Regions from separate parts of the Homo sapiens genome. Here regions 2 and 3 are each linked to region 1. Evidence: fine-mapped expression QTL. A gene starts in region 1. Each other region holds a variant in brackets. All regions are shown on one strand. Distances are from middle to middle.

Evidence for each region. PIP is the estimated chance that this variant, and not a neighbour inherited with it, causes the effect.
Region 2: its variant is the best candidate, but not a certain one, in a credible set for the expression of C1QB in whole blood (INTERVAL, PIP 0.84).
Region 3: its variant is the best candidate, but not a certain one, in a credible set for the expression of C1QB in whole blood (TOPMed, PIP 0.61).

The regions. Positions count from the first base shown.
Region 1 is chr1:22,650,723-22,654,962 of GRCh38, forward strand. It overlaps C1QB (complement C1q B chain), which reads left to right and starts at 2,514. Exons shown (of 3, transcript NM_001378156.1): 1 at 2,514-2,581.
Region 2 is chr1:22,628,698-22,632,937 of GRCh38, forward strand. No RefSeq gene overlaps it. Among named protein-coding and RNA genes, the nearest start is that of MIR6127, 2.5 kb to the right of the region's middle. The variant T/C (reference allele first, on the strand shown) is at 2,277.
Region 3 is chr1:22,518,835-22,523,074 of GRCh38, forward strand. It overlaps ZBTB40 (zinc finger and BTB domain containing 40), which reads left to right. Exons shown (of 18, transcript NM_014870.4): 14 at 1,227-1,441; 15 at 2,662-2,824; 16 at 3,543-3,629. Among named protein-coding and RNA genes, the nearest start is that of EPHA8, 43 kb to the right of the region's middle. The variant A/G (reference allele first, on the strand shown) is at 2,333.

The DNA.
Region 1 (4,240 bases):
CTCTTCATCAGGGGGGCAAGCCTTTGAAAATGCCAACGTGTCTGCCTTGCTGAGGGGAGGCGGGGGAGAGTTTTTCAGTGGGGCAGGCAAGGAGGGGTGGACGTGGGGCAGGAGCCAGGACAAGACACCCCAAGCTGCAAGGAACCCCTTTCCAACCACAGGAAGGTGAGGGGGTGTAGGTTTCTTTTTCCACTCTTTGCAGGGATCAGGGATTTTCCACTCTCAATCAGGGATGTGAGTCCAAAATTTTGTAGGTACAGAGACCAGCTGGCTCCCATTAGCGGTCAAGGCCCAGGGACCCCTCAGCTCCTGATCCCCAAGTCCAGGCCTCCTCCTAATCCAGGCATGGCTTCTTTGCTCCTGGGTTCCAAGAATTCCATCTTCTCTTCATATAAGTAATACCGTTCCCATGTTTGCAGTGGGTGCCCACCAAGGGCTGGGCACTCACCTGGCCCTGGACATGGCAGGGGGACCTCGCTGGCCCCCAAAACAGCCCCAGGAGATAGGCGTTCATGCTTCCCATTTCTACACGAGGAAACTGAGGCCAGTAAACATTCCCGTGGCCACATAGTTAGCAAGACGAAGAGCTGGGATTCAAACTGCCAAAGTCCGTGCTCCTAACCCACCTCTGCTGCTTCCTGTTCTTAGCCTCACTGCTTCTACCCCAAATTGACATCCATCTTTTCCCATTGCCCTTAGCCACCTAAGAATTAGAGGCCCAGAGGCTGGGCATGGTGGCTCACGCCTGTAATCCCAGCACTTTGGGAGGCCGAGGCAGGCAGATCAACTTGAGGTCAGGAGTTTGAGACCGGCCTGGCCAACATGGTGAAACCCTGTATCTACTAAAAAAAAATACAAAAATTAGCTGGGCTTGGTGGCATGCACCTGTAGTCCCAGCTACCTGGGAGGCTGAGGCAGGAGAATCGCTTGAACTTGGGAGGAAGAGGTTCTAGTGAGCTGAGGTCGCACCACTGCACTCCAGCCTGAGCAACAGACTGAGACTCCATCTCAAGAAAAAAAAAAAAAAAAAGAACTAGAGGCCCAGAGCCACTCGGCTTTGGGAATGCTCAGAAGCCCTCAACTTGCAACCTACTAACTCGTTTCTCCCTTTGTGGAATCCAGTGTTTCTTCTCTTCACCCTAGCCTGGGTCCCTTCGGGACTATAGTTGACTGAGCTCAGAGACCTTTTGGTTTTATCAAACTTATCTTTCCCTCCTGTTCACCCATTGCAGTTAACACTTAATTTCCACCAAGCTGCATCCACAAGCCCAGTGAATTTCCATCTCCAAGCACAGATGTCAAGAGGGCCTCCAGCTCCTGGTGCTTGCTAGTCATCATGTCGTCTGAGACGCAGCCACAGGGAGAGACTGATATCCTAGTGCCAGGGATGCCGGCTTCCAGGTCTGCATCTGCCACCTCCATGAGGCATCGGCCCCAGCAGTCACGTCTTTCTGTGACATTTATCACAGAAGCAATGAAGCCTCATGTCATTCCGTGTTTAACACCAGTCTCCCCCCGTAGAAGGGAGGCCCCATGGGGGCAGGGACCATGGCTGATTTGCTAAGAGCTCTCTCTTCAGTGCACATGGAAGCAAACACTAAATATTTGTTAAATGGTGGGTCTCCCCTCTGGGCCTCAGTTTCCTCGTATATAAAATGAGGAGGATGGGCCGAGTAACCTCAGCCCCTCTCCGGCCCTAACTTGGCGTGATTCCAGGATCGAGAAGAAGCAACAGGCCCCTGCCTGGGCCTATTATTGTCATCAGCGTCCAGCCCTGCTGGAAGCAGAGGGAGGGGTATCAATAAATAATGAACACATTTAAAATTCATTATGAGATTATTTTCTGAGAACAGGGAAAGAGCAGGGGCACAGAATGGGAAGGAAGCAGAAGAGATGAGCCCAGAAAGGGGAAGCCTGGGACATGAAGTGATATTAACAATGAACACGTGCACAGCCCTTTACAGTTTACCCCCAGACACTTCCTCCCCCATCATTTCCTCCATTATCCTCCCAGTGGCCTGTGAGATCTGTATCTGTAGAGCAGGTACAATTATGGTCCCATCCTATAGCAGAGAAAATTGGGGCTCCCTTGACTGACAACACATCAACTGGCAAGTGGCAGAGGCGGGATTGGAATCAAAGGCTCTGACTGTAAGCCAGCACTCAGGCAGCGGGCCCGCCACATGATGCTCACTGAGGAACACCCCTGCCCAGTGTAGAAGAAGATCACGAGGTCAGAGAGCCTGGGAGGGTGAGCTGTGGATGTTCCCCCAGGACAGCGTGTTCTCCCCACAGCTGCTGAGTTGGCAGAACCAAACTTGCCACCCACCCGTCTCATTTACAGTAAATCCAGTGGGTTGCAGAAATAGGACCTGAAACTGCCTGAGGGCAGCAGGGTGGGGGGACAGTGAGGGGACGGGAAAGGGGCCAGCCTGCTGGTCCATGGGAGGGGACCGTCAGGGGAAAGCCCTTCCCGCCTCTGGGGAAGGGAACTTCCGCTTCGGACCGAGGGCAGTAGGCTCTCGGCTCCTGGTCCCACTGCTGCTCAGCCCAGTGGCCTCACAGGACACCAGCTTCCCAGGTGAGGACGGGGCTTGGCGCCTGGGGGAGGCTGGCAGGGCCAATATGGCAGAAAGTGGTGATTCCGTAAGTGTGAGCTTTGCGTCACCTGCCTCGGAGCCAGTTAGGCTGTTTAACAGTGCAGGTAGCTGGGCCCAATCCCAGACCTATGGGACCCAGATCTCTGGGGTGAGTTGGGGAGTCTGCTGCTACCCAGGGCCTAGCGGATGGGCAGGCCACCTAAAGCGGGAGCCTGGCACATAGGAGCTTTGGCATCGCAGAGACTTGAGCTGAGTCTGGCTCTGCACCTTATGTATTGGTTATCTTGGGCAAGTCACCTAACCTCTCTCAGCCCGGCCCCCCTACAGAGAACAGAATCTTTCAGCACTGCTGTGCCTTACAGGAGATCAAGCTTGCAAAAGCTTAGTGCATGCCCTGGCTCAAAATTTATCAGTAAACCAGAGGCAGGAGTGGGATTATAAGCCAGTCGCTCCTGCCCGGCCCAGCATTTCCCCAACACCTTGCTTATTTCCTCATACTCGCTGAGAAAGCTCAGCTTGACTCTTCCAAAGAAATAAGGGGATGTGCAGGTAGAGTTACGATGAGTTCTCAGCTAGTACTGAGTGAGCGCAATGTTTGTGCAGCTGGGGAGTGGGATGTGGCACTGCACGGGGCAGGGGGGACCTTATTTCTTCTAAGCGCCTTCTCCTGTCATCCTTCTGGCAGCCCTGTCAGGTTGAAATCAGCATTGCCAAGAGGCTCAGAGAGGTTAAGGCACTTGCCTGAGGTTATGCAGCCGGTAGCAGATGGGGCTTTAAAGTCAAGTGGGCCTGACTCCATGTTGCGGAAAGGGACTGCTGGACCGAAGGAGATGGAAAGGTCAGAGCCTGGGGGGAGGACAGGAGAAACCGCGCTGGCAATGATGATGGGCTGGCACAGGCAGGAGGCAGTTAAACCAGATGAGTTGTAAGCCCTAACCCAAGGCTGAAACTCGGTGGCTTTTGAAATGGGCTAGAACCAGCACTTTCCCACTCCCCCTGCCCCTGGCTTCCCCAGGAAGCCCAAGTCCTGTCAGTACCCTGCTCCCCACCCTCTCTCCCCACCAACTGGTCACAGCTCTCCACCCCTTGCTGCCTCCAACTGACAGAGCCCCTCCCTCTAAACACAGTCTTTCAAAGGGATTGTCTTTTTTTACTTCTCCAACCATCTTCCCTTCTGTTCAACCACTCAGGAATTCTTGGATGACAGTGATAATAATAAAATAGCTAATATTCATTAAGAATTTCCAACATGCCAGGCTCTGTTGGAAGCTGTAACTCATGTCCTCGCACATACCCTATGAGGGAGAGAGTAGCATTATCCCCACTTTATAGGAGGGTAAACTGTGGCCAGAGAGAAGGAGTGATTTCCCAAGTCCCTTAGCTAAGAAGCAGTAGAGACCTTATGTGAACGCTGAGTGTTGCTTTCCTTGTGACACTACAGGCTCCCGCCACCAGGTGAATGTGTGCTGCCTAACAAGAGCAGCAATCATCGTGGTGGTAAAAAGCCACTTTCACCGAACACTGACCATGTGCCTACCACTACCCTTGGTGTGTCCCATGCATTAGTCCTTTTATCAGGCTGTCTGGCTTCAAAGTTTATGTTTTTACCACCAGGTACAGTGGCCTCTTAACATAACATT
Region 2 (4,240 bases), 22 kb before region 1:
AATCACTTGATCCCAGAAGGCAGAGGTTGCAGTGAGCCGAGACCACGCCACTGCACTCCAGCCTGGGCCACAGAGAGAGACTCCGTGCCCAAATATAAATAAATAAATAAATAAATAACTATTCAATTTACCGGCTGTGTGACCTTGTGTGAGTCACTTACCCTCTCTGAACCTCAGTTACCTCATCTGTAAAAGGGACTGTCACCATGCCACCTCCCCGGGGATTCTGATGATGAAGTGAGGTCGTGTATTAAGCACCCAGTAGGAAGTCCAGCATTCAGTAGGGCTCACAAGGAAGAGCCTATTAGCATCTTGCAAACATACCACGGTGAAGCATCAACCTCAAAACACCCCAGAGAGGACAAGGCTTACCCTGTGGAAAGAATGACTACAGGAGGAATTTCAGGTCCTGTGATGGGCAGATGAGGGAGATCATTTGCACTCCAGGCTCTCCCTGGCCACTCTCTTGTGACCCTCATGCCTATGTGAGCTCCTTGGAAGCTAGCATCTCCCAGCAACCTGGACGTCAGGCCCAGCCCTCTCAAGGTGGAGGTAATACCTCCTTGTTGGCTCCCACAGCCCGATCTGTTTGTTTTCCAAACTCTTAGTCCTCTTAATCTTTTTACATCTTACCTGCCTGGTGGCTTCCGGCTATATTTGCCTGTGGGGAATGTCTCCAGAGCAGCTCCACCCAGTTCCCCTCCGGGCTGGGCTGCCTCCCTCACAGGCATTCAGGGTGTTGGCTTCCAGCTGGGGGGCTTTATTTCTTCCTATTTTTCTTCACTCTCCCCTGCCAATAAATCTTTTCTGTCTTCTTTTTTTTTTTTTTTTTTTTTTTCCAAATTTTCTTTCATGCACCGGCCCTCTGAGTGCCAGGTGAGAGTAGGAGGAGGTAAAACATTGTGCTAAGAGCCTACTGTGTGCCAGAGACCAGCCGCACTACTGTCTGGAAGCCTGGCATAGTTTGAGGTCATCATTCCCAGTTTATAGGTGAGGTGCTAGAGCCCCAGACACAGGAGGTTACTCGTGCAAGATCACACAGCCAAAGAGAGACACACACTGAATTTGAACACATGCTGCCTCCATCTCCGCAACAAATGATCTGTTGTTTACAATCCCCTCTGCGTTTCATAAAATAATCCCAAGAAGTGCTTTTATCTGCCAAGAAAAGTAAAGAATAAAGAGTGTGCACAGACAACACATGGCAGTTCTCTCACACAACAGCTCCCTCCCCAATTCCAAATGCCTCCCCCAACCACTTGCTAACAAAACCCTGATCTTATTGGGTGGTGGGGACAAAGAATGGAAGGATAGACCCCAAAAGGCCCAGAAGGAGGGTTTTGCAAGAAAGGCGAGACTAAGACAATCTCCATAATAAAGAACAGAGAGCAGGAGAGTCAGGGAGAAGGAGGAACAGTGGCTCTGGGCAGAGGGGCCGGGAGATTTTTTTTTTTGCTGGAGACAGGAAGTTGAAGACAGAGGTCTGGAGGAGTGGATGGAAAAGAGCAAAGAGCACTGGTGTCAACTCTATGCCTCCTTCCTGGTGTTCAAATGTACAGCAGAGAATTGAGTGTATCTGTTCACAGGGCTGGGTGGGGCAGAGGACTTGCACCAGAATGTTCTTAGCAGCTTTATTCATCATAGCCCAAACTCTGTACCAACAGAAGGGACAAACAAAGTGTGATACTGCATATGCATACGATGGAATAGCACTCAGCAATACCACGCAAACTGACACACGTAACACAGATGCATCTCACCGGCATGCTCTTCAAAAGAAGCCAGACACAAAAGAGCACAGGCCGCATGATTCCATTGACATGAAGTTCAAGAACAGGCAGAAGGCACCAATGGTGAGGGAGAGCAGAACACCGGTTACTTTGCGGGTGGAGGGGAGCACTGTTGACTTGGAGGGTCACGGCCGCCTCGCTGGGGAGATGGATACTCTGCACTCTGATCTGAGTGGTGGTAGAGGGCCTGTGCGTGCAGGTGTAAGCTACTGAGCAGTGTGCTTGAGATGTGCACATTTTACTCTGTGCAAATTATGCCTCATTTTTTTTAAAAGAAATATACAAGCACCTTAGAGTCGCATTATATACACACTTGCCTATCTCCACTTCGCCTAATAGGACTCAGAGAGAGAATCACAATTTAAGTAAGGCAGGGGATATTGGTTTTTTTTTTTTTTGAGACGGAGTTTCACTCTTGTCGCCCAAGCTGAAGTGCAATGGCCTGATCTTGGTTCACTGCAACCTCCACCTCCTGGGTTCAAGCAA[T/C]TCTCCTGCCTCAGCCTCCCGAGTAGCAGGGATTACAGGCATGTGCCACTAGGCCAACTAATTTTATACTTTTAGTAGAGACAGAGTTTATCCATGTTTGTCAGGCTGGACTCAAACTCCCGGCCTCAGTTGATCCACCCTCCTCGACCTCCCAAAGTGCTGGGATTACAGGCGTGAGCCACTGCTCCCAGCCAGGGGATACTGTCTTCTAAGAGCCTATTTCTGGAGGGACCGTGGCTGGGAGAGTTCTGCTGTCCCCAAGTCTGCCTCCGCTCCTGTGAACCCCTCATGATCTAAACACCTCACCTCCAAGGGTGGCTCCAGTCTCCAAAGATTCAATTCCTTTGTGTGTGAGTGGTGGGGGAATTGGTTAACCTTAACCAACTGGTACTCAACTGAAGAAAAAGAAATCTGTTCTACTATTGGAGCCAAAACTGACAGCAAAAGACTATTGTGAAACGGTAATACAGTCTTTCACGTGGCGCTGTTTGAAGAATTTTTCCACCATTTACAATGGTGATACTCACCATTTACAATGTTTGCCTCGTATGCCGATTTTGCAACACAACCCTTGAATGGGATGTGACTGCCATAAAGAATTCAAGTCATTTAAAAATTATTTTTTGGTTATTTATTTGACCTTTGATCCCACTCTGAGACTGAACCTCATGGATCATAACTGTGCAAGCATGGCTAGGAATTTCCTCTCTTCCCCACATCTCCTGCCTCCCGTCTAGGAGTCTGGGCTCTGGAGAAATGGAAGAATATGCCCTTCCTCTCCGCCTGAAGGTGTCCCTGTTGTGACATGCACAGGGCCATTGCTGACCCTTTTATTTCTCACACTAATGATATGCGCATTAGTATCGATGTCTTTTATTTCTTGGGAAGTGTTTATACTCTTGCAACAGCCTGATAAGTAAAATCATCCAACACTTGGAAATAAGGCAAATAGATAACCGGTGTCCTTTCAAAGTCAAATGAGAGCTGTATCTAACAAACCCTGCTAAGGGTCATCTGACACTCTAGGGGAATGTCACTTGGCTTGACTTATTATTTACTATTGATTAGAGCCCAGATTCAGTAAAGATAGCTGTTAACTGGTAGAAAACTGTTAAGTTGCAAATTATTTTTGTCTAGTAGAGATGCAAATGATTTCTTTTCAATAGAGAAGATAGCCCCAACATGATGATTTTATTGCCCTATAGAACACTAACCAGTTTTGTATCTAATTTAGCAATTTTATGAATATTCCAGAATTCTTGTTGTTTTAACTGACTCTCTCTGTCTCCATATATAGGTATACATATATATTTTTTTCCATATCCATTGAACTAGCTTTGTCACCCAGCTGGTTCCTCCATTAACAACCTACAAGAGGACACTGACACATTCCCACACTGTATTTCTATAGGAACTGGGTATTCAATATTTTGAAAACTAGACTTTGAGAAGCTTTTCACAGTATCTGATTTTTCCTCTTGCCAACTCTTGCCCCTGTCTGTGTGACCCGGGCAAGTCTTTTTTTGTCTCTGGTCCTTTGTGTCTTCAGAGTAAAATAGGGCACGCAGGGCTGGCGTTTCTGCCTCGGGCATGTCATGTTTCTAACTCCTCTGGCAGGCAAGCAGGGCTGACGCAATGCAGTCAAAGAAGATGGATACTGGGCCGGGCGCGGTGGCTCACACCTGTAATCCTAGCACTTTGGGAGGCCGAGATGGGCAGATCACCTGAGGTCAGGGGTTTGAGACCAGCCTGGGCAACATGGCAAAACCCCGTCCCTACTAAAAATACAAAAATTAGCCGGGCGTGGTGGTGCACACACGCCTGTAATCCCAGCTACTTGGAAGGCTGAGGCAGGAGAATCTCTTGAACCCAGGAGGCAGAGGTTGCAGTGAGCTGAGATCGAGCCACTGCACTCCAGCCTGGGCAACAAAGTGAGACTGTCTCAAAAAAAAAAAAAAAAAAAG
Region 3 (4,240 bases), 130 kb before region 1:
ACCTCTTTAATGACATTCTGCTTTAGTCTTCCTTTCCCAGTAGCATTACCTGGGCGTCAGGAAAGGGGAAGACGTTATTAACTTTCAGAAGGGAGAAGACCCAGAATACTTTGCCATACCCTAAACTATATCATCCGTGGCAGGCCTAGCATCCAGGCCCCCCTCTCTCTCCCATTTCTTGCCTGTTTCATAGAACCACATCATTGCTTATGGAAAGCTGCATCAAAGTGTCTTAGAAGATGGTGTAAAACTGAGATTTCAAGAGCTCATGTCCACAGGGAAACTAGTTAGTGATACCGAATGCTGCTGCATGTCAGAATTCCTGAATTAATCTGAATCAATGCACATAAAAGATTGGCTTGTGAGCAAAGGATTTTATTAAAACATTTTGATTTCTGTTGCTTTAAGAAAAAGACCAAAGTTTCCTGCCATAGGATGGCAAATGTATTCTTCATCACTACTAGTTTTATTGTGGGGGTCTCACTGAAGGGTTGGCATATCCAATCAAGCATGTAGCTCTCAGACAGCATGGATTTGGGAGTGAGAGATGGGATTGTTACTCAGTTCAGCCATTTCTTAATTATGCCCATGGGCAAGATACTGCCTTACCACTCTAAACCTTGATTTTCCTAATCTGTAAAATAGGGATGATAATAGAACCTACTCATAGAGTTATTGGAAGGATTAAGTGAGTTAATTTACATAAAGCACTTAGAATATGCCTGTCATAGAGCACTCATTATGCTAATGTTTTTATTGTTGAATCTAAAGTGGGGAGAAAGGAAGCATCCCTCCACTTGTGCTGTTGATGACAAAGGAATTAGTGATGCTCTGGGGAGTGTGCTGGAAATCCTCTACAGAGAATTAGAAAACTCCAGAATGCCCACTGCAAACCGGACGAGCCAGGGTGAAACTCCCTGGAAAGTGATAAAGTGTAATTTAACTTGAAAGATGTAAAATGAGGAATGGAGATGAACTACATGATGCTGCAGAGACAGTTAGTCTTGAAACCCTGGAGGAATCCCACCTCCTAGGATGAAGGTGGGGGTAGTCAGGTGACTGCTACACTGATTTCTGATCCTTGGAGTCTATGACCCTGCCTGTTACGTAAAGCAGAGTCTTCACATTTGTTGCTGTACACAACAACCAGTGTTTCACTGATGGCTGCCTATGGTGTTTTCTTTTCCTCTCCACCTCTTCCTCTCATGGATGTCCCGTGAAACTAGACATAGAAGATCCTTATGACTGCAAGAAGTGCAGGATGAGTTTCCCCACTCTTCAGGATCACCGGAAGCACATCCATGAGGTGCACTCCAAAGAGTACCACCCCTGCCCCACGTGTGGGAAGATCTTCAGTGCCCCGTCCATGCTGGAGCGGCACGTGGTGACCCACGTTGGAGGGAAGCCCTTCAGCTGCGGGATCTGCAACAAGGCCTACCAGGTGACCTCAGGTGCCACTGGGAGCTCTTCCCCTCACCCCTGACCTACTCTCCATTTGATCTTCCCTGATGCCCGGGTTGGTGGCTTGCAGATCATATCTTGTATCCAGGATGTGACAATTGGCTGATTCTCATGAAGGATGCAGCTTGTGATCCAGATTCTCTAAGGAGATCTGGTCGGAGTGCTGCAGTGGGGGAGCTCATTATTGGAGCAGAGAGTTCATACGCTTCTTCTCTTAGACAGCAGACTTGTCGTGAACTAATGCTGCTTTTCCCCTTGGATGCTCACCTTCCATAGAACCCATTGCTCCCATGTGTCAATGGGCATGACAGCGGCAATGGGGAGTGGAACACTACCTGGAATTACCTTGTTTGGCACAATTAGTTTGTGTTTGTTTAACTCACAGGGAAGGGCTCAGCCTTTTTACCTTAGGATTTGATATGTAATTAAAGTGAAGCCCCATATAGAACTAAAAAGAAACTGCATCTGTCAGAAGCTTTAAAACTACAGAGAAAAGAATGGTCCTTGTGGCATCTATAAGATTTGGGTATAGACAAAGAAGCATAACTGCTAACTTTAGCTCAGCAAAAACTGAGAGCTAACTTTGTGCCAACGCTCATGTTGTGACATTAGCGTTCCAGAACGGAGACCTGGGCTTGAGCCCTAGGATGGCGTGGAATGGTAGGGAAAGTATTCCCAGTGCTGCTCTGGAACCTGGGAAGGAGAGGGACTCTTGCTTATGGGGCAAGGGCAGTGTGCACTCCTCCAGCAGCTTGCTCGGCTGTGCCCCAGCTCCCTGGGAAGCCGTGAGATGCAGCTCACTGGTAAAGCACACAGGTGTTACAGTTGGAAGGCCTGGGCCTGAATCCTGGTCCTGCTATCTCCTGATGTT[A/G]TGATTAGTCATTTAACCCCTCGGTGTCTCCGCTTCCAGCTCGCTAGGAAGACTCTAACACCTCCCTCATAGGCTTGTTGTAAGGAATGGGCATGTGAAGGACTCCTGGGAGCCCTGCCCTGTAGTGGCTTCTCAATGAATATGTAGTTGCCTTATTCTCACAAACACCAGGCTTTCCTCACATCAGCACCCGGTGTGATAGGTAAGAGTGTGTGATACTAGAAACGTCAGCTTATCCAAAAATGTATTTCTTTCTCTCATGAGAGCCTCGTGAGCTCTCCAGCTTGCTGGAACTTTCTAAGACCTAACACTTGCCAAATTCCTTGCAGCAATTGTCTGGTTTGTGGTACCACAATCGAACCCACCACCCTGACGTATTTGCTGCTCAGAACCACCGATCTTCCAAGTTCTCATCACTCCAGTGCAGCTCCTGTGACAAAACCTTCCCCAACACCATTGAGCACAAGAAGCACATCAAAGCAGAACATGCAGGTGGAGTTTGGGTACCGCCGGCAGAGAGCGGGAGGGGCTTGATGGTGTAGCCTCCTGGGCCCCACCAGAAATCCCCACTTCTAATAGTCTAGTGTGATGTGCAGTGGTCATTGCCTTTGTTCTGCCCCAGCGCACCTGTCCGTAGCAGCAGCAGTCAGTAGCAGCAGCTTGAGTGGCAGTGGTTCTCAAACCTGGAAGCGTAGCGCAGTGTAAGCTCCCACCAGCCCTGAGTGAGAGCTTGTTGGGGCACCTGGGAAGGGTGTCAGCCTCAGTGGTAGGCAGGCCTGAGTGGAAATCCTGATTCCAGCACTTATCAGCTACATGACCTTGGCAAGTGACTTCCCTTTTCTGAGCCTGTTTCCTTCTCTCCAGGATGGCAGTTATTAAAACCTACTTTGCAGGTAAATTTGGTGATAATCACAACAGCTGTCAGTTACAGAGTGTTTCCTATGTGCAAGACACCATGCTAAGCACCTCGTGTATATTTTCTCATTTCATTCTCACAACATCCCTCTGAGCATCCAGGCAGTCTGGATCCAGATCTCATGCTCTTTACCACTAGATTGTACAAATATACCATAGGTTATAAGATTCCTGGCACTTGGTAGATGCTTGCTAAGTATTGGCCATCGCCCCAACCCCAGCCCTGTTACTCTTCAGCCTTGGAGAGCCAACCATTTGTTCTTTCCCAGCACGTCTTTCTTTATGCACTTCACAGATATGAAGTTCCATGAATGTGACCAGTGTAAGGAGCTCTTCCCCACGCCAGCCTTGCTGCAGGTTCATGTCAAGTGCCAGCATTCAGGTCAGTACCCCTGTCAGCATACTTCTAGGCTAGACTCGGGGCCTGAATCTCCCCTCCACCACTTGCAGCTTTGCAACCTAGGCTAAATCGCTTAACAAACCTGTGCCTCGGTTTCTTCATCTATAAAATGGGAACAGTTGTAGCACCTGCCTCATAGAGTAGTGTGAAAAACTGAAGGCCTTGGCATCAATAAGCATCCCTTAAGCCGTAACTGTGATTGTCATTGTTATTGCTATACTCATCAAATCTAAAGTGCCAGTTAAAAATAAATAAATACAATTCCAGTTATAAGATATACCATTTTTATTTTTTTTTTTTTTGAGACAGAGTCTCACTCTGTCACCCAGCCTGGAGTGCAGTGGTGCGATCTCAGATCACTGCAACCTCCATCTCCTGGGTTCAAGCAATTCTCCCTGACTTAGCCTCCCAAGTAGCTGGAATTACAGGTGCCTGCCACCATGCTCGACTAAATAAGATGTACCTTTTTTTTTTTTTTTTTTTTGAGATGGAGTCTCACTCTGTCACCCAGGCTGGAGTGCAGTGGCGCGATCTCGGCTCACTGCAAGCTCCGTCTCCCAGGTTCACGCCATTCTCCTGCCTCAGCCTCCCGA